2 separate regions of the Homo sapiens genome follow, and region 1 is linked to region 2. Evidence: fine-mapped expression QTL. A gene starts in region 2. The other region holds a variant in brackets. All regions are shown on one strand. Distances are from middle to middle.

Region 1 (8,000 bases), 92 kb before region 2:
AAAGAAAAGGTTCTATTACAGAGCCAAATATGACTTAATTTCTCTGAGGAATCAGGATAAGGAAAACTGCCATCCAAAAATTGCTTTATTGCCTCTGCAGGCTTTCAAATCTCTTTGGCCTTATCTATTAGGATTTTGCAGATAATAAGCAGACACCTAACTCCTCAAAGTACTGCATTTACCTGTGGCTTTCACCTGCAAGGAGGTGTGCAGAGGACCCCGTAAGCTACTCAGCACCAAAGTGCTGGTATCTTAAAAAGCAACTCTGATTCACCAAATTGAAAATTATGATTCCAATGAATTAAGTTATAAAAATAATGTAAATAGAGTTTGATCTTTACAAACTGATTCAAATAAGTAATTCGATTAACCAGTGCTTCTATAAAATGGAACTAATCAACCATTAAAAGGCATCACAGATACACAATCATAGAGAGAAAAACATGAGTTCTGACTTTATGACCCTTTACCACTGCTGAATCTATTGATACAGGAAGATATAAGTACAGATGTGAATGAACTCAATTGCACAGAAAATCACAGTAATTATTTTTGCATTACTCACCTTTCTAAAATGTGGTTATTTTCAGCAAGTTCTTTAACCACCCCTTCCATCTCTTCCTTTAATTTCTTCATACTAATAAAATAAACAAGCACCTTTGCTCAAAAACAGTATGCAAATGTTTTAGAATGATGTTTATGTTTTATTTTCTTTTAACTGGTCAATAGATAACCTTATTAAACATTGTATTACAACAAACATAAAAAATTTCAAAATGTAAGAGCAAAAGCACAAACTGCAATGAAAGCAAATGGAAACACTACAGTTTCCAAATGATGAGTTTCTTACCCAAGAGTCATTTCTACTAATGTGTTAGAACTTGGATAAATTGGGGTCATGGTATGTTTGATTCCACTGGAAGCTGTAAACATTTTCTGAGGCAGAGTTTCTTGTAACTGAAACATCAAAAAAAAAAAAAAAAGAAAAAAACCCCACATTAATCACAGAACAAAAGTACTTACTACAGATCTGACATCAAGTGTTACAGCTTTTAATAAGTCCTTTAAAAAAACTTTAAATTTTGATTTCAAAACTATCGATGATACAATACTTAAATCAACACCCTTTTAAGAAAGAAACTTTTCATACAGTTGATAAAAGGATGGTTTATCAGCTGTTTTTAGTTGTAAAACATCTACATTCTTAAAACTTGGCTCAAAATACATATTAAAAATTGGTGGGTGGAACTGAATGTAGGCACATTCTATCCCATTTCTCCCTTGTCAATCACTATCAGTTATAAACTGAGAAGAATTTTAATTTTTCCTTGACAGCTGTACCTACCTCATTAGTATATTCTTGATATTTTGATACTTCTTCTTCAATATCAAAACACTGATTAGTCAGCGATAATAACTGTTTCCTAAGATGAAGCATCTTTCTGAAAACCAAAAAGAATCAATTGATATGCAGTCTAGTGAAGCATTCTTACTTCAAATATACATTTATATTGTGCAGTCAACCACTAATCACTCCAAAAGAAGTTTACTCACCTTATCCATTCTTCTGACTTATTCAAAAATGCCTCATACTTTTTAACACATTCATCTGTAAAGTGCGTCATAGCTTTTGTGGCATGGTAATACAGTTTTTGCCTGTAATTTAGAAATAATCAGAGGCTTAAACCAATGTCACTGTTTCTACTTTCAATATTTAGAAATTTTCAAATATATGAAATGTATCTTTCCTATAATGATTGTTGTGGCTTTAGAATATTTACAGGAGAAAGTAAACGTTTCTAAGATAGACATTATAGCAGCAAGAAGATAAAGAGAAGGTTCAAAATGGATGTAAAAAAAATGCCTATTGAATGCGGTTAAAATTAAGACGGTAGTTAAGTCTGCCCTTGCCTATGTGCTGTATTATCTGTACTTCTGTAATCAGAGCATATGAGGCAGAAGCTGACTGACTGAAATGGTAATCTTTCTCCCCCCTCCTTCTCCCATCATGGTAACTTCCCAATTAGGGAGCAGATGTGTGAACCTCAAAAATGTCTACATATTGTAACAATCCTGTAAAATCAAGATTAAAATGTATTTTTAAATTGTAATTAATTTCAACTTTAAGAAGAATCATATTAATAAAGATAACCAAAATAGCACCAAAAATAACTATTAAACATAATCTGGATACTTACTTATCAAATTTGTGGATTTGTTCTTCATTATAAGCTAATCCTAGAAATAGGAAAATATATTACTGTTGTTAATATAGAATCATAATATTATACACAATGTATTTTCTTTTGAGATTATTGCTTCAAAAAGGCTAAGAGTCTGAAGCAGATGTCATAGATTTGTGGCTCATTGGTTACTTATGGCCCACAGATGCTTTTATTTGGTCTGTAAATAACAATGTAAAAAACAATTAACAGTTAACATTTAAAAATCAAGGTATTTCTAACAAATTCTGTATTTCTAGCTTTTTTTGAGAAATGGGAAGATTGGGCAATACCTTTGGTGAATATGAGTAGTGGCTCTCCCCTGTAGATGAGTCCCCACTGGCCAATCTCATTCCTTTCTGTTACCTGCCTGGCCTTTAGAGGTTCTGGTGTTCATGACCCTGATTTAAAGTATTCAAAAGGTTGATTTTAAGGATAGTTTTTTTTTTTTTTTTTAACACAATCAACCTTTTTCCTGACAGAATCACATCTCTGAAAAAAACAGCTTAAGAAGCTACCCTTACAGATATACCAAATTAATTTAACTGAATTATAACTAATTACTAAGAGGGATTTATTAAATTAACAAATAGCAAATTTTACTTACTACGTTCTGCTTTGTCTTTTTTGAACTGATAGTAAATCTCTGTCATGCAATTTAACAGGACTTGTAGTTTTTCTACACTATTTAAGGAAGAAAAACTCAAATAAATTAACTGAGTCAATGTGAAAAAGGACATTAATAAGAGCAGAAACTACGCATAAAGCTATAACCTACTTTCTGTCTTTCGGATGAGTGCCTTCTTGATGTGCCCATGCGTCTGCCAGTGATCCACCTGGAGATAATCTGCTGTCGATATCCTGAAGACTGGTTTCTATTGTTCCCTGAGAACTGGAAAGCTAAATAAAACCAAAGGTTCAGATCCAGATTGCCAAAAGCCAGAAATGATCATCACAGTCCCAACAAAGTCTAAAGTCTGGACCACATTTCTTTTGTAGATTACTTCAATTCAAAGGCACAGTAATTATTTCCATTTTTAAATACAAAAGAGTTTCTTAGGTTGATTTCCACCAGGGGTACAGTATGATAATAAAACATGAGACCAGCAGTAATACATCTTATAAAACAGTTCATTCAGTAAACACCCTTCTAAAACCACATGTAAAATACTTCTAATCTTGTTT[C/G]CTTATCTGTAAAAAGTGGTTAATTCTCCATTTCATAACCCGGTTTTGAAAATTAAATAGAACCACTAGAATAGTTCCAAATATCAACTGTGTAGGCAGCAAGATTTGTGCTCTTCTTGTTTAGAGGCCAAACCAAAGCAACTCCTCTTAAAAACAGAAAATGAAAAGAAACCTCATCTAAGATTCTGTTCATTTTAAGCTTAGTAAGTTTATCACTTACCTACCACAGAAATGCATACAGTATTTGTAAAACTTATGAAGAAAGGATGAAGGTTAGACTTAAAGGATAAATATGTCCATATATTTTAAAGGTCCTGATACACACTATTGCCTTTCAAATAATGTTGTCAGTAGTAGCTGACATTGCCACTAGCAACAAATAAGGATGCCCTTTAAACCACACTCTTGTCAGCACTGGCATTATAATTTTTTAAGCCTTGATAATCTGAAAGACAAAAATAGTATCTTACTGTTATGCAATTTTTTCTTACTATTGGATTTGAGCATTTTTTCAAGAGTGTTTTCACCAGATATATTTTCTTCATTTATAAATTGTCTCTAAATGTTCTGTGCTCATCTATTTTTTGCAGATTGACTATTTTCCTTATCAATTTGTATGAGTTATTTTTTATAAAAAACCCTTTATCACATTTTCCCAACTTATTTGCATTCTAACATTTTTTAAACATGTACAGATCTTAAATTTTTATTTTATTTTTGAAACAGAGTCTCATTCTGTCGCCTAGGCTGGAGTGCAGTGGTGCAATCTCAGCTCCCGCAACCTCTGCCTCCTGAGTTCAAGCCATCCTCTCACCTTAAGCCTCCTGAGTAGATGGGATTACAAGTGCGTGCTATTGCGTCTTGCTAATTTTTTCTTTTTTTTCTTTTTTTTTTTTTGGTAGAGTTGGGGTTTCACCATGTTCCCAGGCTGGTCTTGAACCCCTGAGCTCAACCAGTCTACCCCCACCTTGGCCTCCCAAAGTGCTGGGATTACAGGTATGAGCCACTGTGCCCAGCTTAAATTTTTATATGATCAAATATATATCTCGGTTTTTATGCTTTATGTCTGTTTTAACATTAATGTTTAGAATGTGTTAAATTATACATCCAATATATGGAAAATAGTTTATGGAAAAAGTCATTTCTTACAGCATTACATAGAAGAGTGAAAAGCAAACTAAAGGACCAACAGTAGAGCAATAATAAGTAAGACTGTAATAAATCCACTGGCTGCAACATCATATCATTAAGAAAATGGTGTTACCAAAAAAACCTGGGAAATGCCTACACTATAATGGTATCCAAAAAGTAAAAATAACAACCATATGTTTGTAGAGTAACAGTCATTTAATAATACATATAAAAGAAAATGAAAACAGTGATTACCCAGATTTTAGCAGCATGAGAATCACCTGGAAGGCTTATTAAAAAGGGCCTTTGCTGGGTTCTGCCAGTGAGTTGCTGACTCAACACATCCGAGGTGGGGTCCCAAAATGTGCATTTCTAATAAGTTCCCATGTGAGGCTGAAGCTGCTGGCCCAGGAGCCACTCTTCTTTACTTTTTTTTTATTTTTTGAGACAGGGTCTCTGTCGCCCAGGCTGGAGGACAGTGGCATGATCTCGGCTCACAGCAACCTCCATCTCCCAGGTTCAAGTGATTCTCTTGCCTCAGCCTCCCCAGTAGCTGGGATTACAAGCGTCTGCCACTACGCCCGGCTAATTTTTGTATTTTTATTAGAGACACGGTTTCACCATATTGGCCAGGCTGGTCTCGAACTCCTGGCCTCAAGTGATCCGCCTACCTCAGCCTCCCAAAGTTCTGGGATTACAGGTGTGAACCACTGCGACCTGTGGCCCAGGAGCCACTCTGAGAAGCACTGCTGCAGGGCAATGGACAAAACTTTTAAGCATCATTTTTTGGGTGCATAATATATGTGGTATTTTTTTCTACTTATAAATTTTACTTTTGTGGTGGGAAAAATGTCTGTAAGGTCTCCACTACGAAGCCGGGCGCAGTGGCTCACGCCTGTAATCCCAGCACTTTGGGAGGCCGACGTGGGCAGATCATGAGGTCAGGAGATTGAGACCATCCTGGCTAATACGGTGAAACCCCGTCTCTACTAAAAATGCAAAAATTAGCCGGGCCTGGTGGTGGAAGCCTGTAGTCCCAGCTACTCGGGAGGCTGAGGCAGGAGAATGGCGTGAACCCAGGAGGCGGAGCTTGTGGTGAGCCGAGACTGTACCACTGCACTCCAGCCTGGGCAAAAGAGCAACTTCGTCTCCAAAAAAAAAAAAAAAAACAAACAAAATTAGCTGGACGTGGTGGCGGGCGCCTGAAGTCCCAGCTCTCAGGAGGCTGAGGCAGGAGAATCACTTGAACCCAGGAGGTGGAGGTAGCAGTGAGCCGAGATTACGCCATTGCACTCCAACCTGGCGAAAGAGTGAGACTCCATCTCAAAAAAAAAAGAAAAAGAGAAAAAATGATATCTACGGAAAAGTAATTGGCTTGAAGTGAGAAGTCCTGATGTCATAAGACTCCATTACCTCAAGCTATTTAGTCATCTATGCTTTCTCATAAGAAATCTTAATCTTGGCTAGGCAAGGTGGCTCATGCCTGTAATCCCAGCACTTTGGGAGGCCAAGGCGGGCGGATCACCTGAGGTTGGGAGTTCCAGACCAGCCTGACCAACATGGAGAAACCACTTCTCTACTAAAAATACAAAATTAGCTGGGTGTGGTGGCACATGCCTGTAATCCCAGCTACTCGGGAGGCTGAGGCAGGAGAATTGCTTGAACCCAGGAGGCGGAGGCTGCAGTGAGCCAAGATCGCGCCACTGCACTCCAGCCTGGGCAACAAGAGGGAAACTCTGTTTAAAAATAAATGAATAAATAAAAAGAAATCTTAATCTCACAGGAATGTCATAAAAATGAGAAACATTTTGAGATCCCCAAAAGAAAATATATTAATTTTGATTTAAAGTGCTCAAACGATGCTGGCCCTGGAAATAAATGTCCACTAGGCCTATGAGCAGGTAAATCATGTTCTAAGGTGAAAACAGAGAAGAATATAAAACACTGACAGCAATATGGCTGCCTATATTTAAATGCAGACAAATACTGGGGAAGACTATTTTGTGCTTTCTGACTTTTAATCACCTTATTCTATAGCTATGGTTTTCAAACTTTCCTGACCACAACTCATAGTAAGAAACTCACTGTTTTAACTCAGTAACATTTAAAGTGTGTATATACCTGAATCAAAGTTTCATAAACAATGATTTCCTTATTATATGTGACACATTCTGACATTTTCTATTCTGTTCCACTGAAAAATACATTGCTGATTACAAGGCACCCAACTTCATAACCTACTAGTTGTTCATTACTCATATTTTGAAAACCACTGTTTGAGATCTAAAACTGAGGAAAAGAAACAAACATCAGCCTAAGCTGGAAAGTGAAAAGGATATCGTATCAAGTTCCTTTCACTTTTAATTTAACATCCATTTTATGAAAGAATACTTCGAATACTAAAAGCTTGCAAGATTACAATATATTTATTTATTTATTTATTTGAGACAGTCTCGGCTCTGTCACCCAGGCTGGAGTGCAAGTGGCACGATCTCGGCTCACTGTAACGTTCGCCTCCTCGGTTCAAGTGATCCTCCTGTCTCAGCCTCCCAAGTAGCTGGGACCACAGGCATGCACCACCATGCCTGGCTAATTTTTTTGTATTTTTTGTAGAGATGGGGTTTCATCATGTTGCCCAGGCTGGTCTTGAATTCCTGGACTCAAGTGATCCATCCGACTCAGCCTCCCAAAGTGCTGGGATTAGAGGTGTGAGCCACCACACCCAGCCAAGAGTACAGTATTTTTATTTATCTCATTTAATTAGTACAACAACCCATAAGACGGGCAGGGTAAGAAATTGCTGATTTTAGAGAAAAAGAAACCAAGGATGCAAAGAATTAAAAGGCCTTGCTTAAGTAGCCAGTCATGAGTAGGCAGGTAAATGGGGCAGGTCTGGGAGTAGTAATCAGCTCTCACTGATTACTAATATATAAACCTGCGCACTTCTATAATACATGTTAATAAGAGATTCAGAGACTCCCAGAAGTTCTATTGTATTTTTCAGCAGAGTAGAGACTTGTGTCCTAATTTCTTTTTCTAGCTATAGAAGTAATTACTGCCTTGAAGACCTCAAATCTTTCTTTCCTTTTTTATTTTAGAAAAAAATCTGATAATATTTTTCTAATTTAAATCTTTTTTTTTTTTGAGATGGAGTTTCACTCTTGTCACCCAGGATGGAATGCAATGGTGTGATCTCGACTCACTACAACCTCCGCTTCCTGGGTTCAAGCAATTCTCCTGCCTCAGCCTCCCAAGTAGCTGGGATTACAGGTGCCCACCACCACACGCAGCTAATGACACGGGGTTTCACCATGTTGGCCAGGCTGGTCTCAAACTCCCGACCTCAGGTGATCCACCTGCCTTGGCTTCCCAAAGTGCTGGAATTACAGGCATGAGCCACCGCGCCCAGCCTAATTTAAATCTATTTCTAAACAAGCTCAAGCACTTTACATTCAACTGCAT
Region 2 (17,333 bases):
ATCCTAATAAATTGTTATTCAGATTGGCTAAATGGATACTGAATTATGCCTGGACCTGGATGCTTAAAACACGTATGTGACAGAACCCATTTTTACTGACAAAAAGCAGAGCTTCTGTATTAAAACCACTAATAATGTATTGGTTTTAATTTTCTGAAAAAGAAATCATGGCACATTTAAAAAAATTGGATGCTGGAACTTAAGAGGCAAAGAAAATGCCTCTTTCATCCAAAAATTGGATGCTGGAACTTAAGAAATGAAAGATTTCAAGAGGCACATAAAAATAACAGTAAAGGCCATTTAATAACTAAACATACAGTCAAAGGCTTTTAATTACAAGCATGCAATACCAAGCTAGACTAAAGGTAAAGATCTATGATACTTCAACTATGTTTGAAGGTAGGTAGCATAAAACCCTATGACAAGAAAGATTTGTTTACACACAGAAGACATGGATTTTAAATGTCTTTTGATGTCCTAACTTGTTTGATAGGTATCTTGTAATTAGCCAGATACTTAAATCTCAATTCCTATTATTTTCCTGTATCTGAAGGGCTCGTTACTTATTTAGTAGCAGAGACATGCACATGGTACTGTATTAGAAACTAGTTGGGATTGTTTTTTACTGCTTTAAAAGATTTTTTTCTTAAAATAAGAATAAAAACTGCTATAATTTTTAGTGAGATTGTTAACCTCATTTAGCTCATTTATAAAAAGTATTCTTTGCTATGAAAAGTAAAAAGAAAATGCCTCTTTCCTTTCCACTTACCCTATAGTTCCAAATGCCCACGTCTTTAAAAAAAATTAATTATAGGCTCATTCTTTATATTTTTCTATCATTCAGCTATAGTCATGATTATAGTTGTAGGCTACATTATATTTAATTGTTTACATTTATCCAACTATCCCAGCACTTTATAATGGATTCTTGTCATGTAACCATTTTACTTAAGACATAACCTATCATAACTGCTTATTTATGTCTGCCTAGACCAAATAACAAGAAAGTTAAATATCACTAATGTGGCCGGGCAGGGTGACTCATGCCTATAATCCTAGCATTTTAGGAGACTGAGGTGGGCAGATCGCTTGAGCTCAGGAGTTCGAGACCAGCCTGGGCAAGATGGTGAAACCCTATCTCTAGAAAAAAATTAAAATAAAAAAAAAATCATTAAGGTAAGTGTTAAAACAGCTTGTATAGATCAAGCCAAGGAAAGAGAAAATAAAATACACATGTCTGCTGCTATGGAAAGTCTCTTAAACGAATCCTTTGCATTACAATTTTTAAATAATTAGAAATAATGACTGATGTTGCATAAAGATCTGCCTTGAATCATATGAGATTTTAATACTTTTGTTTGGCCAAGTAAACAGAAAATAAATCACAACACTCACTGTTTCTATATTCAAAATATATTCAAATACCTCAAATTTTTTTGTTTCTGTTCATTTCTACCCAAAGTAAACTTTTGCCAGGTGCATTTTTATTCAAGTCCTCTAATGCCAATCTGTGGTGACATGATTAAAAAATGATTCAGCAGAGTAACTTACCCTTTGTCTAAAGTCTGAATCAGCATTTGGATTTAGCCCTAATAGAGCCTGTTCATCCATCCTCGCTGTTATACTTGTAGTTTTCTGGTTGTAATAGGCGTGCCCTCTGATCCCACAGAAGAATTTATAAACATCTGCCACAAAAAACAAAGTTGAAAGAAAACATTACTTGATAAACAAATAGATGCTTATCCTGAATAACGTAAATGGATAAAATCATGCAAAGAAGCTTAAATGTTTAAAAACTTATTTTGGAACTTATCTAAATTACAACTAAAAGTTAGAGCCTAATTCTCAGAAAAATGGGCTCTGCTAACTACTCCACTAATGTGTAATTCCTAAAAATCTGATTTTTTTTTTTGAGACGGAGTCTCACTCTGTTGCCCAGGCTGGAGTGCAGTGGCACCGTATCAGCTCACTGCAAGCTCCGTGTCCCAGGTTCACGCCATTCTCCTGCCTCACCCTCCCGAGTAGCTGGGACTACAGGCGCCCGCCACCGCGCTGGGCTAATTTTTTGTATTTTTAGTAGAGTCAGGGTTTCACCGTGTTAGCCAGGATGGTCTTGATCTCCTGACCTCGTGATCCGCCCGCCTTGGCCTCCCAAAGTGCTGGGATTACAGGCATGAGCCACCCCACCTGGCCCCTAAAAATCTTAAAGTATGCCATAAAGGTCCTCAAGCTTTCTTAGTCTTCAAGATCTTCTTAATAAGGTATAGAAAGTAATCATTTTCTACTTTAAATAGTAGAAGTACCTAATTTATGCAGTGTTTTACTTATCTCTAGTACTTAAAAATGCAATTGTGCAACTGCAGTTAAGTATAAAAATGACAAATGCAGACTATTACAGTAATTATAATAATTTGTCTACTTCCAGATACAAATATCACAAACCTTCTTTAAAACATTAGAATGGCTGACCTCAGAGTTCAATATCCTTTGGAGTGTTTACTAAGTACTATGACAGAAGTCTAATGAAAGGAACAGGATAATGAAAAACCAGTCATTTAGCTTTTGAGCAATGGACTTAGTTTTGCATTTTACAGATCTCTGCTCTTGCCAGCCAATTCTAAAAATTTCAAAAAAAAAAAAGTTTTTCAATAGTAGATACAAAAACCCACAAACCAGCCAGCTACAGTGGCTCACACCGGTAATCTGAGAACTTTGGGAGGCTGAGGTGCGCAGATCACTTAAGGTCAGGAGTTCAAGCCAGCCTGACCAATACGGTGAAACCCTGTTTCTACTAAAAAGACAAAAATCAGCCAGGCTTGGTGGCACATGCCAGTAATCCCAGCTACTCGGGTGACTGAGGCACAAGAATCGCTTGAACCCAGGAGGCAGAGGTTGTAGTGAGCCAAGATTGCGCCACTGCACTCCAGCCTGGAGAACAGAGTGAGATTCCATCTCAAAAAAAACAAAACACACAAAAAAAAATCCACAAATGACTTAACACTGACTACTCTTATTTAAGGATTTTTTTTAATCTCTGAGAGGTAATCCACTTCTTCACAATATAGGTTCCAACATTCTCAAATAATAAGCTGCAAAAGGCATCCTAGTTTTTGATAGAATGCATATTCATTTGAGCAAACATGGAACAAACTCTAAATGATGTGAAAAATGATATTATTCTCTCAAGACCTATAAGGTAGGGAGACCAAGTCTTACTACTTCCATTAAACGCTGTGGGGGGCCAGGCGTGCTGGCTCATGCCTGTAATCCCAGCACTTTGGGAGGCCGAGGCAGGTGGATCACTTGAGGTCAGGAGTTCAAGACCAGCCTGGCCAACATGGTAAAATCCCCTACTAAAAATACAAAAAAATTAGTGGAGCATGGTGGCACACACCTGTAATCCCAGCTACTTGGGAGGCTGAGGCAGGAGAATCGCTTGAACCCAGGAGGTGGAGGTTGCAGTGAGCTGGGATCACGCCACTGCACTCCAGCCTGGGTGACAGAACGAGACTCTGTCTCAAAAAAAACAAAAAAAGGCTGTGGGGCTTTTTGTTTCAATTACCGTTAACCAAAGACGCCAAAAAACTAATTGGATTGGGGGTAGGGGAGAAAAGCCTTTTGGGAATAGCAGGGGTAGGGGAGAAAGGCCTTTTGGGAATAGCAAAACCAGGCTCAGGTCCAGGTTACAGGATACCTACAATAGGCTTTTCTGTTTTCCTCTGAGCCTGCCTGAATCAAATAACTCAGGATATGGACTGAGAGCTTTGAAGACAGCTCAGCCCTTTCTCTTATGGTTCATAACGTACTTGCAGACTTCAAGGCAGTGTAACTCCCTACTGCCCTCAGATTACGATCCAAACACTTTTGAATAACTCCTCACTATTCTGCACACCAGGTCAGCAAGGCCAGTGCTAGTGAACCATATGGCAGTTCTCCAGTGGTATTCTACCTTTCATCTTTGCACACTGCTCTTTCTTCTTGTTAGTAGGTTAACCCCTGCTGTCCTTTGAAATTCAACTTAGAAGCCATCTCTTTCAAGAACACTTCTTTGACCTCTATTGTCCAACTCTCCCAAATTGGATTACATGCCCCATCCTAAGCACTGCTATGCTGTCACTGCCAGCTTACTAGTTTTCTCTCATTAATCTTTTTTTTTTTTTTTTGAGACAGTCTCACTCTGTTGCCCAGGGTGGAGTGCAGTGACATGATCTCGGCTCACTGCAGCCTCTGGCTCCTGGGTTCAAGTGATTCTTCTGCCTCAGCCTCCCAAATAGCTGAGATTACAGGGGTGAGCCACCACACCCGGCTAATTTTTGTATTTTTTAGTAGAGATGGGGTTTCACCATGTTGCCCAGGCTGGTCTCGAACCCCTAATCTCAGGTGATCTGCCAGACTCGGCCTCCCAAAGTGCTGGGATTACAGGTGTGAGCCACCCGGCCATTTCTCACAATCTTAAAGGGCAAGGACTGTCTTGACTATCCATCACTATGTCCCTAGGACATAGTAGAGCATAGGTTTTGGATTTCAAAGACCTGGGTTTGTATCCCCATCTTGTCATTTTTTAATTGGGGCCACTTGGACAACTTACAAAACCTGAGAGAACCCTTTCTATGACATGGGAAAAAGACCATATGCCTCATAAAGTTGTAAAGGCTTCAAAGAGATAAGGTATGCAGAGCATGGCTGGCACATAGTGAGCCCTCAATACGTTGTTTATAGTCAGAGGTAGGAACATGTGGAATGGAAACGACTTGGGGCATTCTTATACCAGATCAGCATTTTTAAAAGACAGAAAAACACAAAGAAAGGCACTGGTTCCCTTCGCCCCCTAAATGTTAAGAAAATCTGATGTCCATTCCCCTGAAAAATGCCCACAGAGAGAAAAAACGATTTCGGAGTTTCTAAGAATCCCTGATTGAGAAGTCCAATAAAAGCTTCCTTGAATTTGCTATGGCTTTTTAAAAAAATGCTGGCCAGGCAGGGTGGCTCACGCCTATAATCCCAGCACTAAGGAAGGCCGAGGGGAGGGGGGCGCAGATCAACTGAGGTCGGGAGTTCGAGACCAGCCTGACCAACATGGAGAAACCCCGTCTCTACTAAAAATACAAAAATTAGCCGGGTGTGGTGGCACATGCCTGCAATCCCAGCTATTCGGGAGGCTGAGGCAGGAGAATCGCTTGAACCCGGGAGGCGGAGGTTGCAGTGAGCTGAGATGGCGCCACCGCACTCCAGCCTGGTCAACGAGAGCGAAACTCCATCTAAAAAAAATTGCTGGCTGGGCACGGTGGCTCACGCCTGTAATCCCAGCATTTTGGGAGGCCGAGGTGGGCGGATCACGAGGTCAGGAGTTCGAGACCAGCCTGACCAACACGGTGAAACGCCGTCTCTACTAAAAATACAAAAATTAGCTGGGCATGGTGGCCTGCGCCTGTAATCCCAGCTACCCAGGAGGCTGAGGCAGAAGACTCGCATGAACCCGGGAGGGGGAGGTTGCAGTGAGCGGAGATCGTGTCATTGCACTCCCGCCTGGGCGACAGAGTGAGACACTGTGTCAAAAAAAAGAAAAAGTGCTTAAGCTTGGTCAAGTCACTCTGAAGCTATCGGGAGAAAAATGAAGTGGCCCTAAGGAAAACATAGCCAATAAACCCAAGGAAACAAACTAGTTAACAGTTGTCACTACAGAAAGAATCCCCCACATAGAAGGCATTTGGACGATCAATATGCAGTGGAAGGCCGGGCGCGGTGGCTCACGCCTGTAATCCCAGCACTTTGGGAGGCTGAGGCGGGCGGATCGCGAGGTCAAGAGATCGAGACCATCCTGGCTAACACGGTGAAACTCCATCTCTACGAAAAATACAAAAAGTAGCCAGGTGTGGCGGGGCGCACCTGTAATAGAGCTACTCGGGAGGCTGAGGCTGCAGAATCACTTGAACCTGGGAGGCAGAGGTTGCAGTGAGCCGAGATGGCACCACTGCACTGCAGCCTGGGCGACCGAGCGAGACTCCGTCTCAAAACAACAACAACAAAACCCCAAAAAATGTTTCAATACGGTAAACAATTATGCATCTTGCAAAGGTTCTTGGGGGAAGGCAAGCAACATACTTAAAATATTAAGCCTTAACTTTTCCTGGATAGCCATTAAGAATCAAACAATTTGGAAAAATTCCTCTACACCTACTGAAGACTGTTTCAAATACTACGACTGAATCTTTCCAGCCTTTTAACACCACGCTGACAAGTCGGTTTAATAAAACGTAACTCTCCCCCAACCCCCGCCCGCCACAACTAATTAGCACTTTCAAAAAGTACTCGTTTTTCTGGTTACAGGGAAACCTCATGCTTCTCTAGTCCTGCAGGATGGTGAGGAAGGTTTGAGAAGAAATGGAGCGTCCGTGCTGGCCAATTACTGCACAGAAATAACACTTTTCCTTTTTGTCCAGGGGTGGGGGAAGAATCAAGTTTGAGGTCTCCACAGTTGATAACGCTACAACGATGACTAACGGGCTTCGGAACCACAGGCGATGCCGACCCTCCTCTGCTAGCCTTGCTCCCATCCCTCCCCCGATCCCTCCCCTAAAGGAAGCCTCGTGGCAATTCGGGTGATGAAACACCAAGCAACCGCCGGCCACGCACTCGGGACGCGCTCCTCGGCGGCGGCCCCGGCTCGTACCCACCCCCACCCGGTCCGCCCAGCCAGGGGGTGCACCGCCATAGAGGGTCCCAAGCCTGCACCCTCCCTGGCGTCGGGACTCCCCCGGGCCGGTCCGCCCCGGCCAACTTCCTCGAAGCCTCACGCGGACCAAACCTGGTCCCGGTCCCGCTGCCCCCGAGCCCCGAGTCACCTTCCCTATCACTCCATCCCGCCTCCCAGCCTGCACTCCAGATGGTCAGCCAGCGGAGCGGAGCGGCGCGGCACGCAGAGAGCTGGGAGAGCGGCCCTCGTCCTTGTCGCCGTAGTCCTCCGCCACGGCCGCAGCTACAACGCCAGAGACGGTGCTGGCCGGGACCGCGCGCCTCTAGTCGCTCTGCGTCCCCTGGCACCTTCTCTTGCGTGGCGCCGGGCAGGCAGGCAGGCAGGCAAGCAAGCAAGCAAGCAAGCGGGCGGGGTCGGCGCCCCAGGAAGGGAAAGAGCGCGAGGGCCGGCTAACGCCGCCGCCGCCGCCGCAGCCGCCGCCGCCGCTGAGTCAGCGCGAAGCGCGCTCCCCGCGTCGGTGCCGCGCGGGCGGGCGCCGGCGCCAGCAGTCTCTTGGAGAGTGCGGGCGGCAGCCCGCGGGCTGACGCCGGAGGCCTACAACTCCCAGCATGCAGGGAGCGGCCGGCGCTTCCGGGCGGCGAGGCGCACACGCGCTCCCTGGCGCTCGCCGGAAGGCGTGGTCACCGGGGCTTGAGGTGCATGCCGGGATGAGGCATCCGGCCCAGGAGTCCCTACCCAGCTCCTAAATCCCCGGCTGTGTCTGCGTGGTGTCAGAGCTCAAGCGTCAGGTTCGCCCCGAGCATTCCACAAAGGGCTTCTAGTAGTTGAGAGTACGGATTCACGAATCAGGATGACGTGGTTCTAACCACGTGTGAGTCAATTTAATTGCTTGTCTACGGCCCCAAGTGTCCCGAGTACAGCAGTGTAAAGCTCTGATGAGTGCTGACAGGTTTTCAAAATTAATTAATTAATTTATTTATTTATTCTTTGAGACGGAGTCTCGCTCTGTCGCCCAGGATGGGGTGCAATGGCGAGATCTTGGCTCACTGCAACCTCCGCCTCCGGGGTTCAAGCAGTTCTCCTGCATCAGCCTCCTGAGTAGCTGGGATGACAGGCGCGCGCCACCATACCCAGCTAATTTTTGTATTTTTCGTAGAGACAGGGTTGCACCATGTTGGACAGGCTGATCTCGAACTCCTGACCTCAAGTGATCACCTGCCTCGGCCTCCCAAAGTACTGGGATTACAGGCGTGAGCCACGGTGTCCGGTCCAAAATTTATTTTAAACAGACTAAAATTTTGTCCATGAAAAGAAGGAGAGCATTCTTAGGAAGTCCTACTCACGGGATCTTTCGATGCTACTAAATGTCACTTCATTTATTTGGTCACAGATTTATTAATTTATTAATGCAACATAGAGGCAGTGTAGGCTTAGGCTGCCTCGACTTGACTGCCACTCCGCCTCCTCACTAGTTGACCTCAGGCACTTTACTTTAGTCTATCCATGCTTCAGTTTACTCGTATGTAAAATGGGGATTGTTAATAGTACCGACCTCAAAGGGTTTCTGTGAGGTTTGAGTTAATACATGTGTTTGACACACAATGTGCTCAATATTTACATTTCATTGTTGATTATTCAATGTGTACTAAATACAGACTAGGTTGCTGCCACAGACTACAAACAAAACTTGGAGAGGGAGGAATGGTAAGAGCATAGAATAAAACTAATGTTTTAACAGCTACCTTTATTTAGCTGTCCAAGACACTACACCAGGCATTTCCTATATAAAATACCTTGAATCACTCTTGCATCATGTTTCTAATTTATGTGTTTAAAATGTCAGGCTAGTGGCTACAAGATGTCGCTAAAGGAGAACTGGGTTTTAATTTTTTCTTGTTTTTAGAGAAAGGGTCTCGCTCTGTTACCCAGTCTGGAGTAGAGTGGTCATAGCTCACTGCAGCCTTGACCTCCTGGGCTCAAGCAATCCTCCTGCCTCAGCCGCCCAAGGAGCTGGGACTACGGGTGCATACCATCATACCTGGCTATTTTTGTTTGTTTTTGTAGAGATGGGGACTTGCTCTGTTGCCCAGGCTGATCTCTAACTCCCAGGCTCAAATGAACCTCCCACCTCAGCTTCCCAAAGTGTTGGAATTACGAGTGTGAGTCCCTGTGTCAGGCCTTAATTTTCTTCACGCTGCTCTCAGTTGGCTTCCCAACGAAATAGGTTCTTTGTTGTTCTGGCATACAAATTTTCTTTTGATTGTAATCCTTGCATGCATTATGTTTCTACTATTCAAATTATTAATTATTCAAATTAATTATAAACAAGAAGTATCTCTTGTTTTACTTCTGAGAAAACCAAAGTCATGGTATTCTCAAGACTAGAGATAATTCAACAAAGCCTGTGAATCTCCCTCATTTGGAATCTCTCTGGGCCCAATCTGTTTTCCACTGCTAGGGCGCTGCTGCTAAAGCTATATCATATGAAACCACCCTCCCTAAAAGCTCAGGGACCATCTCCAAATAGGAGGGCGAGTGAAACTGTAAGAGCTGGATTGATGGGTGGAATCTGGAAGCTAAAGTAACTCCATCTTTGGTACTAATCTGCCATGTTGGTTTCTGATTAACCCTGTTCCCGGAAGGCCTTTAAGATTTCAAGTTGTGTGAGAGCACATACTGTAAATTCTGCCCTTACGTCAAAACAGCCTTGATGTTATTGTACTTCAGTTGTCTACACATCCTGACGTGGTTTGGCTGTGTCTCCACCCAAATCTCATCTTGAATTGTAATTCCCATAATCCCCTCATGTCATGGGCGGGATCAGGTGGAGATAATTGAATCATGGGGTTGGTTTCCCCCACCCTGTTCTCGTAATAGTGAGTTTTCATGAGATCTGATGGTTTTATAAGGGGCTTCCCCCTTTGCTGGGCACTCATTCTTCTCTCCCCTGCCACCATGTGAAGAATGATGTGTTTGCTTCCCCTTCTGCCATGATTGTAAGTTTCCTGAGGCCTCCTCAGCCCTGAGGTACTGTGAGTCAATTAAATCTCTTTCCTTTATAAATTACCCAGTCCCAGGCATTCCTTTATAGCAGTGTGAGAACAGACATAATACACATCCCTTCTGAATTACATATACCCTTTCCATATGGGGGTTAATGGTGAGGGGATCCACCATCTTGTTTCACTGCTGCTGGAGACACAGGCATGGCTTTTTTCACAAGTTGCTATGAATGTTATTTCTAAGAAAAAAAATCTCAGGCTAGGATTTCTGCCCTACCTATTTCAGTATATCTTTCGAGTCTAGCACAGTGCCAGCCTGCTAGTTTCAACTCAATAACTGAATCATTGCATGAATTCTTATATTAGCTGTGATGATCAACTGTGGAGTATGAAGGCCCAATACTAATCTTGGGCTGAGTGCCTCTGCAATCTGTATGTTCAGCATATTCCAGGCCTCATCCTAAAGAATATGGCAATTCAATCTATCGTATTATAGATGTCTTTACTTGCTGTTTTGTTTGTAAATTCATTTTATGGCTACTTCTTATGTTGAATGTTATACAAAGCCTATCTTCAGTTTATCTACAGTTTATCTACTAACATTAGCTCTTTCGTTTATGGTAGTTGAAATACCTAGAATTGTAGAAATCTCTTTCAACTTTGTAAACTCATATTATTTCAGAACAAATAAAGAGGCTAGGCGCGGTGGCTCATGCCTGTAATCCCGGCACTTTGGGAGGCTGAGGCAGATGGATCACAAGGTCAAGAGATCGAGACCAGCCTGGCCAACACAGTAAAATCACGTCTCTACTAAAAATACAAAAAAAAAATTAGCCGGGCATGGTGGCACATGCCTGTAGTCCCAGTTACTTGGGAAGCTGAGGCAGGAGAATTGCATGAACCTGGGAGGTTGCAGTGAGCCGAGATTGCGCCACTGCACTCCAGCTTGGGCAACACAGTGAGACTCCATCTCAAAAAAAAAAAGCCGGGTGTGGTGATGCATGCCTGTAATCCCAGCACCTTGGGAGGCCGAGATGGGTGGTTCAGGAGGTCAGGAGTTCAAGACCAGCTTGGCCAACATAGTGAAACCCTGCCTCTACTAAAAATACAAAAATTAGCAGGACGTGGTGGCACATGCCTGTAGTCCCAGCTACTCGGGAGGCTGAGGCAGGAGAATTGCTTGAACCGGGAGGTGGAGTTGCAGTGAGCTGAGATCGCACCACTGCACTCCAGCTTGGGCAACAGAGTGAGACTTCATCTCAACAACCACAACAACAACAACAACAAAAAGAACAAATAAAGAAGCACTTGGTAGAATCCAACTGAAGAGGACCTAAGAGAGGTATTACATTTGACCATTCCATATTCTGCCTCCTCCGTCCATGAAGGGATGGGCAGTTTCTCATCTCAGATGAAAATGTTAGTCATCAACATGTTGACAAATAACACTATCATTTTGTAACTGCCCAAAAGGCTCCTTTTGTAACTGCCCAATAGGTTCCCTGCTGCCTAGACAGACCCAATTTATCAAGATAGGGGAATCTCAATAGAGAAAGAGTAATTCACATAGAGCTCCCTGTATGGGAGACTGAGTTTTATTATTATTCAAATCAGTCTCCCTGAGCATTCAGGGATCAGAGTGTTTAAGGCTGATTTGATGGATGAGGGAAGGTCAGTGAATTGAGAGTGCTGATTGGTTGGATCAGAGATGAAATCAGAGAGAGTTGAAGCTGTCCTCCTGCGCACTGAGTCAGTTCCTGGGTGGCGGCCACAAGATCAGATGACCCAGTTTTTTGATCTGAGTGGTGCCAGCTGATCTATCAAGTACAGGGTTTGCAAAATATCTCAAGCACTGATCGTAGGTTTTACAATAGTGGTGTTATCCCCAGGAACAATTCGGGGAGGATCAGAATCTTGTAGCCTCCAGCTGCATGATTTCTAAACAATAATTTCTAATCTTATGGCTAATTTGTTAGTCCTACAAAGGTAGTCTAGTCCCCAGGTAAGAAGGGTGTTTTGGGAAGAGGCTGTTATTGTCTTTGTTTTAACTATAAACTCTAAACTAAGATCCTTCCAAAGTTAGTTCAGCCTATGCCCAGGAATGAACAAGGACAGCTTGGAGTTTAGAAGCAAAATGCAGTTGGTCAGATCAGATCTCTTTCACTGTCTTGGTTATAATTTTGTAATGGTAGTTTCAATTTTAACATAAAGCATGTATGCTTGCATATGACAATGCTTTTATGTATTAATTGCCAATATTTTTGAGCATGTTTGCCAAACAGTTTTTTTTGTTTTTTGTGTTTTTGTTTTTGTTTTTGAGACAGAGTTTCACTCTTGTTGCCCAGGCTGGAGTGCAATGGCGCGATCTCGGCTCACCGCAACCTCTGCCTCCCAGGTTCAAGCGATTCTCCTGCCTCAACCTCCCGAGTAGCTAGGACTACAGGGATATGCCACCACACCCGGCTAATTTTGTATTTTTAGTAAAGATGGGGTTTCTCCGTGTTGGTCAGGCTGATCTCGAACTTCTGACCTCAAGTGATCTGCCAGCCTTGGCCTCCTAAAGTGCTGGGATTACAGGCATGAGCCACTGCGCCTGGCCATCAAACACAGTTTTAAAGTGTTTATACATCGATCCTCACAACTCTATGGAGATAGATACTATTATTATCCCCATTTTATAGACAAGGAAACTGGAGTGCATAGAAGTTAAGTAGCTGAACTGGGATTCATTTGTAGTCATTGAAATACAACTAAAAAATAAAAAAAAGAGCTGGGATTGAAACACACATAGTCTGACTCTAGAGTGTGTGCCACTAACCTATCTCTCAAATGAAGGTCCATTAGGATTGATGACAGTGTAGGACTATAGTACTGAGTCTGTTCTTCCTATAAATATGCTCAGAAGGCCCTTTCTTATAATGACAAAACTTTATTTGTACCTGTCCCATGTCTCCCTTTTCTTTCAATTGCTGAAGTACTTGAAAGAATTATGATAGATAACATTTGTATATGTGGTCCCTTATGGTTTTCACCGTGCCTCCATGTATCTTCTAATTTGTTCCTCTAACATTGTAGGGATGGAGCAGGTATCATCATCACCATTTTAAATTTACAGATGAGGAAACTAAGGTAGATCTATTTTAAGGAATGTATCCCGAGTTACATAACTGGTAAATGGTAGACTAGAACCTTGGATTCTTGATTCAAGATTTCTTGCCTCCAGTACATCACATTCGTTTCCTGTACGTACTCTTCCTTTCCTTCACTTTTTGTAATCTGTTTTTTCACTCCCAAGTCACTCAACTAAAACTCCTACAAATTTTCCAGTCGTGGGACCATTTTTATTCATTTATTCTTTTCTTTCAACTTCTCTGTTGACTATTTCCTTCCTCTTCAGAATTCTCTTCTCTTTTGACTTCTGACCCTATATTATTATTAAACTCCTTTTACTTTTTTGACCATTCCTCTTTGTCTTCCTCACCATATCCTTTTGCTCCCTTAACATGTTTTCTTCCCCAGGCCTTTGTTCTTAGCCATCTGGTTTTCCTTTGCCTACACCTGCTCCCTTAGTAAATTATCTATTTCTGCAGTTTCAACACGCAATTCTATGAAGATGACTTCCAGTTCTGTACTTCTGGTCCTAATATTCTGTACTGCCAACTTGCATTCACAGATGCCTGCATGTCTCACCAGCACCTCAACTCTAACATGTCTGCAATGGACTAAATGTGTGTGTCTCCCAAAATTTATATGTTGAAACCCTCACTCACTGTATGGTATCTGGAGGTGAGGCCTTTGAGAGATAATCAGGTCATGAGAGTGGAGCCCTCATGAATAGGATTAGTGCCCTTGTAAGAGGAGCTAGAGAGCTCTCTTTCCACCATGTGAGGATACAAGAAGACAGACAGCCATCTTCAAACCAGAAATTAGGCCCTCACAAGACACTGGATCTGTCAGCACCTTGATCATGGGCTTCCAGACATTTCTTTTCTATAAGTTTTTGGATTTTTAAAAATTCTCAGCTGAGTGTGGTGGCTCATGCCTGTAATCCCAGCACTTTGGGAGGCTGAGGCGAGTGGATCACGAGGTCAGGAGTTCAAGACTAGCCTGGCCAAGATGGTGAAACCCCGTCACTACTAAAAATACAAAAATTAGCTGCGCGTGGTGGCAGGTGCCTGTAATCCTGGCTACTCGGGAGGCTGAGGCAGAGAATTGCTTGAACCCAAGAGGCGGAGGTTGCAGAGAGCTGAGATCATGCCACTGCACTCCAGTCTGAGCGACAGAGGGAGCCTCCGTCTCAAAAAAAAAAAATTCTGTACAGTGACCATGTACTACTTTGATAATCAGAAAATTAAAAAAAGAAAAACAAACTTTTTTTTTTGCTTTGTCACCCAGGCTGGAGTGCAGTGGTCCAATCTCTGCTCATTGCAACCTCTGCCTCCTGGGCTCAAGCAATCCTCCCTCCTCAGCCTCTGGAGTAGCTGGGACTACAGGTGGGCACCACCATGCCCAGCTAACTTTTTTTAGTAAAGATGAGGTCTCACTATGTTGCCCAGGCTGGTCTTGAACTCCTGAGCTCAAGCTATCCACCTGCCTTGGCCTCCCAAAGTGTTGGGATTACAGGTGTTAGCCACTACAATTGGCCAAAAAATTTAAAAACTGCCTATAATAAAAGGTAAAAAAGAAATTGTTTCATTCACTCTTCGAGCATTTATCGAATTTACCTCCCTCATGAGGTCTTTCCAGATGTCCTCAACCAGGTTTGTGCTTGATCATATCTTTGACACAGCTTGCTAGTTTTTTTTTAAATCTCTAATTGCATTAATATGTTTTAATATGTTTTTGTTGTGTATTAAGTTTGTGTGGTTATCTTACCTATTAGTCATTTTTTGTGTGTATGAATGAGAAAATAACTTTATTTCATTTTGGGGAGCAGGCAGACATTCAGCCTCAGAACTTCTGGAATTGCTTCTTGATGTCTGCGACCTTGGTGACCTTGAGCACATTGAAGTACACCGTCTTGTTCAGGGACTGGCACTTATCCAACGTGACAATGTCGCTGATCTGGACATCCTGAAGCAGAGGAACAGGTGCATGGACAAGTTCTTGTGGTACTTCTCGAAGCAATTGTACTTGCGGATGTAGTGGAGATAGTTTCTCTGGATGACAGTGGTCCTCTGCATCTCCATCTTGGTCACCATGCCATACAGGATCTGCCCTCAGATGGAGACGTTACCAGTGAACAGGCATTCCTTGTCAATGTAGGTGCCCTCAATAGTCTCTTTGGACCTCTTGAAGCCTAGACCGATGTTCTTGTAAGTACCATAGGAGCTGCTTCTTGCCAGTTTCCTTTAGCAGTACCCTCTTCTTGCTTTGAATGATGGTCAGCTGCTTGTGGTAGGCATGCTCAGTCTCAATCCACCATCTTCTTGGCTGCCTGAGAAAAAACTAGACAATTATTATTATTATTATTATTTTGAGATGGAGTTTCGCTCTGTCACCAGGCTGGAGTGTGGTGGTGCGATCTTGGCTCACGGCAACCTCCGCCTTCTGGTTCAAGCAGTTCTCCTGCCTCGGCCTCCTGAGTAGCTGGTGCACCACCACGCCCAGCTAATTTTTGTATTTTTAATAGAGACGGAGTTTCACCATGTTGGCCAAGATGGTCTCGATCTCTTGACCTCATGGTCCACCTGTCTCGGCCTTCCAAGATGTTGAGATTACAGGTGTGAGCCACCATGCCCGGCCAAAACTAGACAATTTTTAAAGATTGAAAGTAAGTGTTATCCTGATTCTGTTTATGGCTAATAAATATTTCTCAGTAAATATTTGTGAAATGTATTGAGTTGAACCAAAAAGAACATAATTACGAGCTGATAGCTGCTGAGTTCTGTGTCAGATTCTCTGTGTGTTTCATCTCATTGTTCTTAAAGCCGAATGTCATTGTCACTAAAAGCTTATGCATAATGGGCTTCTTGGCAGAGAAAGAAGTTGGAAAACAGGTCAGGAATGCTGCCTTTATTGGTCCTATTCCAACCATTAGTTCCTCTTACAGGAAGTACATGTGCAGCAGGAAGCCTGAGAGGCAAAATAGAGCATTGGAGTATTATTCAGTGAAAGAAAACATTAATCCAAATCATTTGTCTGGTTTTTATAACAATGACATCTTTCCTTTGTATGTCATCTAATTACTAATAGTAGATTACTAATAGTAGATATTTAAATGATCAGTATCCATTAATAATAAGTATAGGGCTGGGCGCGGTGGCTCACGCCTGTAATCCTAGCACTTTGGGGGCCAAGGCAGGTGGATCACCTGAGGTGGGGAGTTCAAGACCAGCCTGACCAACATGGAGAAACCTTGTCTCTACTAAAAATACAAAAATTAGCTAGGTGTGGTGGTGCATGCTTGTAATCCCAGCTACTTGTGCGGCTGAGGTAGGAGAATTGCTTGAACCTGGGAGGCAGAGGTTGCGGTGAGCCAGAGGTTGCAGTGAGCCAAGATCGCACCATTGCACTCCAGCCTGGGCAACAAGAGCGAAACTCTGTCTCAAACAAAACAAAACAAAACAAAAACAACAACAACAAAAAACAAGCAACAACAACAACAACAAAAAAAACAACTAAGTTGAAGCACTAAGAGATTCCTAAATGAGACACCTTTAAAAAGTCAGGTTTAGGGCTGGGTGTGGCGGCTCATGCCTGTAATCCCAGCACTTTGGGAGGCTAAGGCAGGCGGATCACCTGAGGTCAGGAGTTCGAGACCAGCCTCAACATGGAGAAACCCCGTCTCTACTAAAAATACAAAATTAGCCGGGCATGGTGGTGCATGCCTGTAATCCCAGCTACTTGGGAGGCTGAGGCAGGAGAATTGCTTGAACCCGGGAGGTGGAGGTTGCAGTGAGCCGAGATTGCGCCACTGCACTCCAGCCTGGGTGATAGAGTGAAACTCCTTCTCAAGAAAAAAAAAAAAAGGTCAGGTTCTATTTATAGGCCACATATTCTAAATATCTTACTGTGTGTACTGTCTGTCTTTAGTTTCAAGTGGGGGGAATGGGAATACTTGGGATCCCTAGAAGCATTGAAGAGTACTTCTAGTTTGGAATCCTTACATGGTTCTCATGGCCTAACCTGCTGGTCTCTTCTCCACTAAAAATGTGACCCAAAAAAGGTAAAATTTGCCTTGGGTCAATCTCAGAAAGTTAGACTTGTATCCAATCAGAAGAATTTAATATTACCTTGTAGATAGGGAGCAGAACGACCACATATGTAACAGGAAATCACATACTTGTTGAACTTATTCTTTCTTTCTTTCTTTATTTTTTAAGACAGAGTCTCACTCTGTTGCCCAGGCTGGAGTGCAGTGGTGCCATCTTGGCTCACTGCAACCTCTGCCTCCCGGGTTCAAGTGATTCTTGTGCCTCAGCCTCCCAGGTAGCTGGGACTACAGGTGCCCGCCACCACGCTGGCTAATTTTTGTATTTTTTGGTAGAGATGGGGTTTCACCATGCTGTCCAGGCTGGTCTCGGACTCCTGACCTCATGTGATCCACCCACCTGGGCCTCCCAGAGTGCCGGGATTACAGGTGTGAGCCACCATGCCCAGTCAACTTGTTCTTTAGACGCTTATATAGTATTTAC

What was found.
Region 1: its variant is fine-mapped to the expression of XPOT in whole blood (INTERVAL, PIP above 0.99).

Annotation. Positions count from the first base shown.
Region 1 is chr12:64,490,605-64,498,604 of GRCh38, reverse strand. It overlaps TBK1 (TANK binding kinase 1), which reads right to left. Exons shown (of 21, transcript NM_013254.4): 14 at 3,001-3,122; 15 at 2,830-2,906; 16 at 2,199-2,238; 17 at 1,555-1,656; 18 at 1,346-1,442; 19 at 851-957; 20 at 566-637. Among named protein-coding and RNA genes, the nearest start is that of TBK1, 42 kb to the right of the region's middle. The variant C/G (reference allele first, on the strand shown) is at 3,408.
Region 2 is chr12:64,394,314-64,411,646 of GRCh38, reverse strand. It overlaps XPOT (exportin for tRNA), which reads right to left and starts at 7,255. Exons shown (of 25, transcript NM_007235.6): 1 at 6,843-7,255; 2 at 1,552-1,685. The coding sequence starts at 1,611. It also overlaps the pseudogene RPS11P6. RefSeq lists enhancers at 5,657-6,533, 7,631-7,680 and silencers at 6,641-6,750, 7,081-7,240.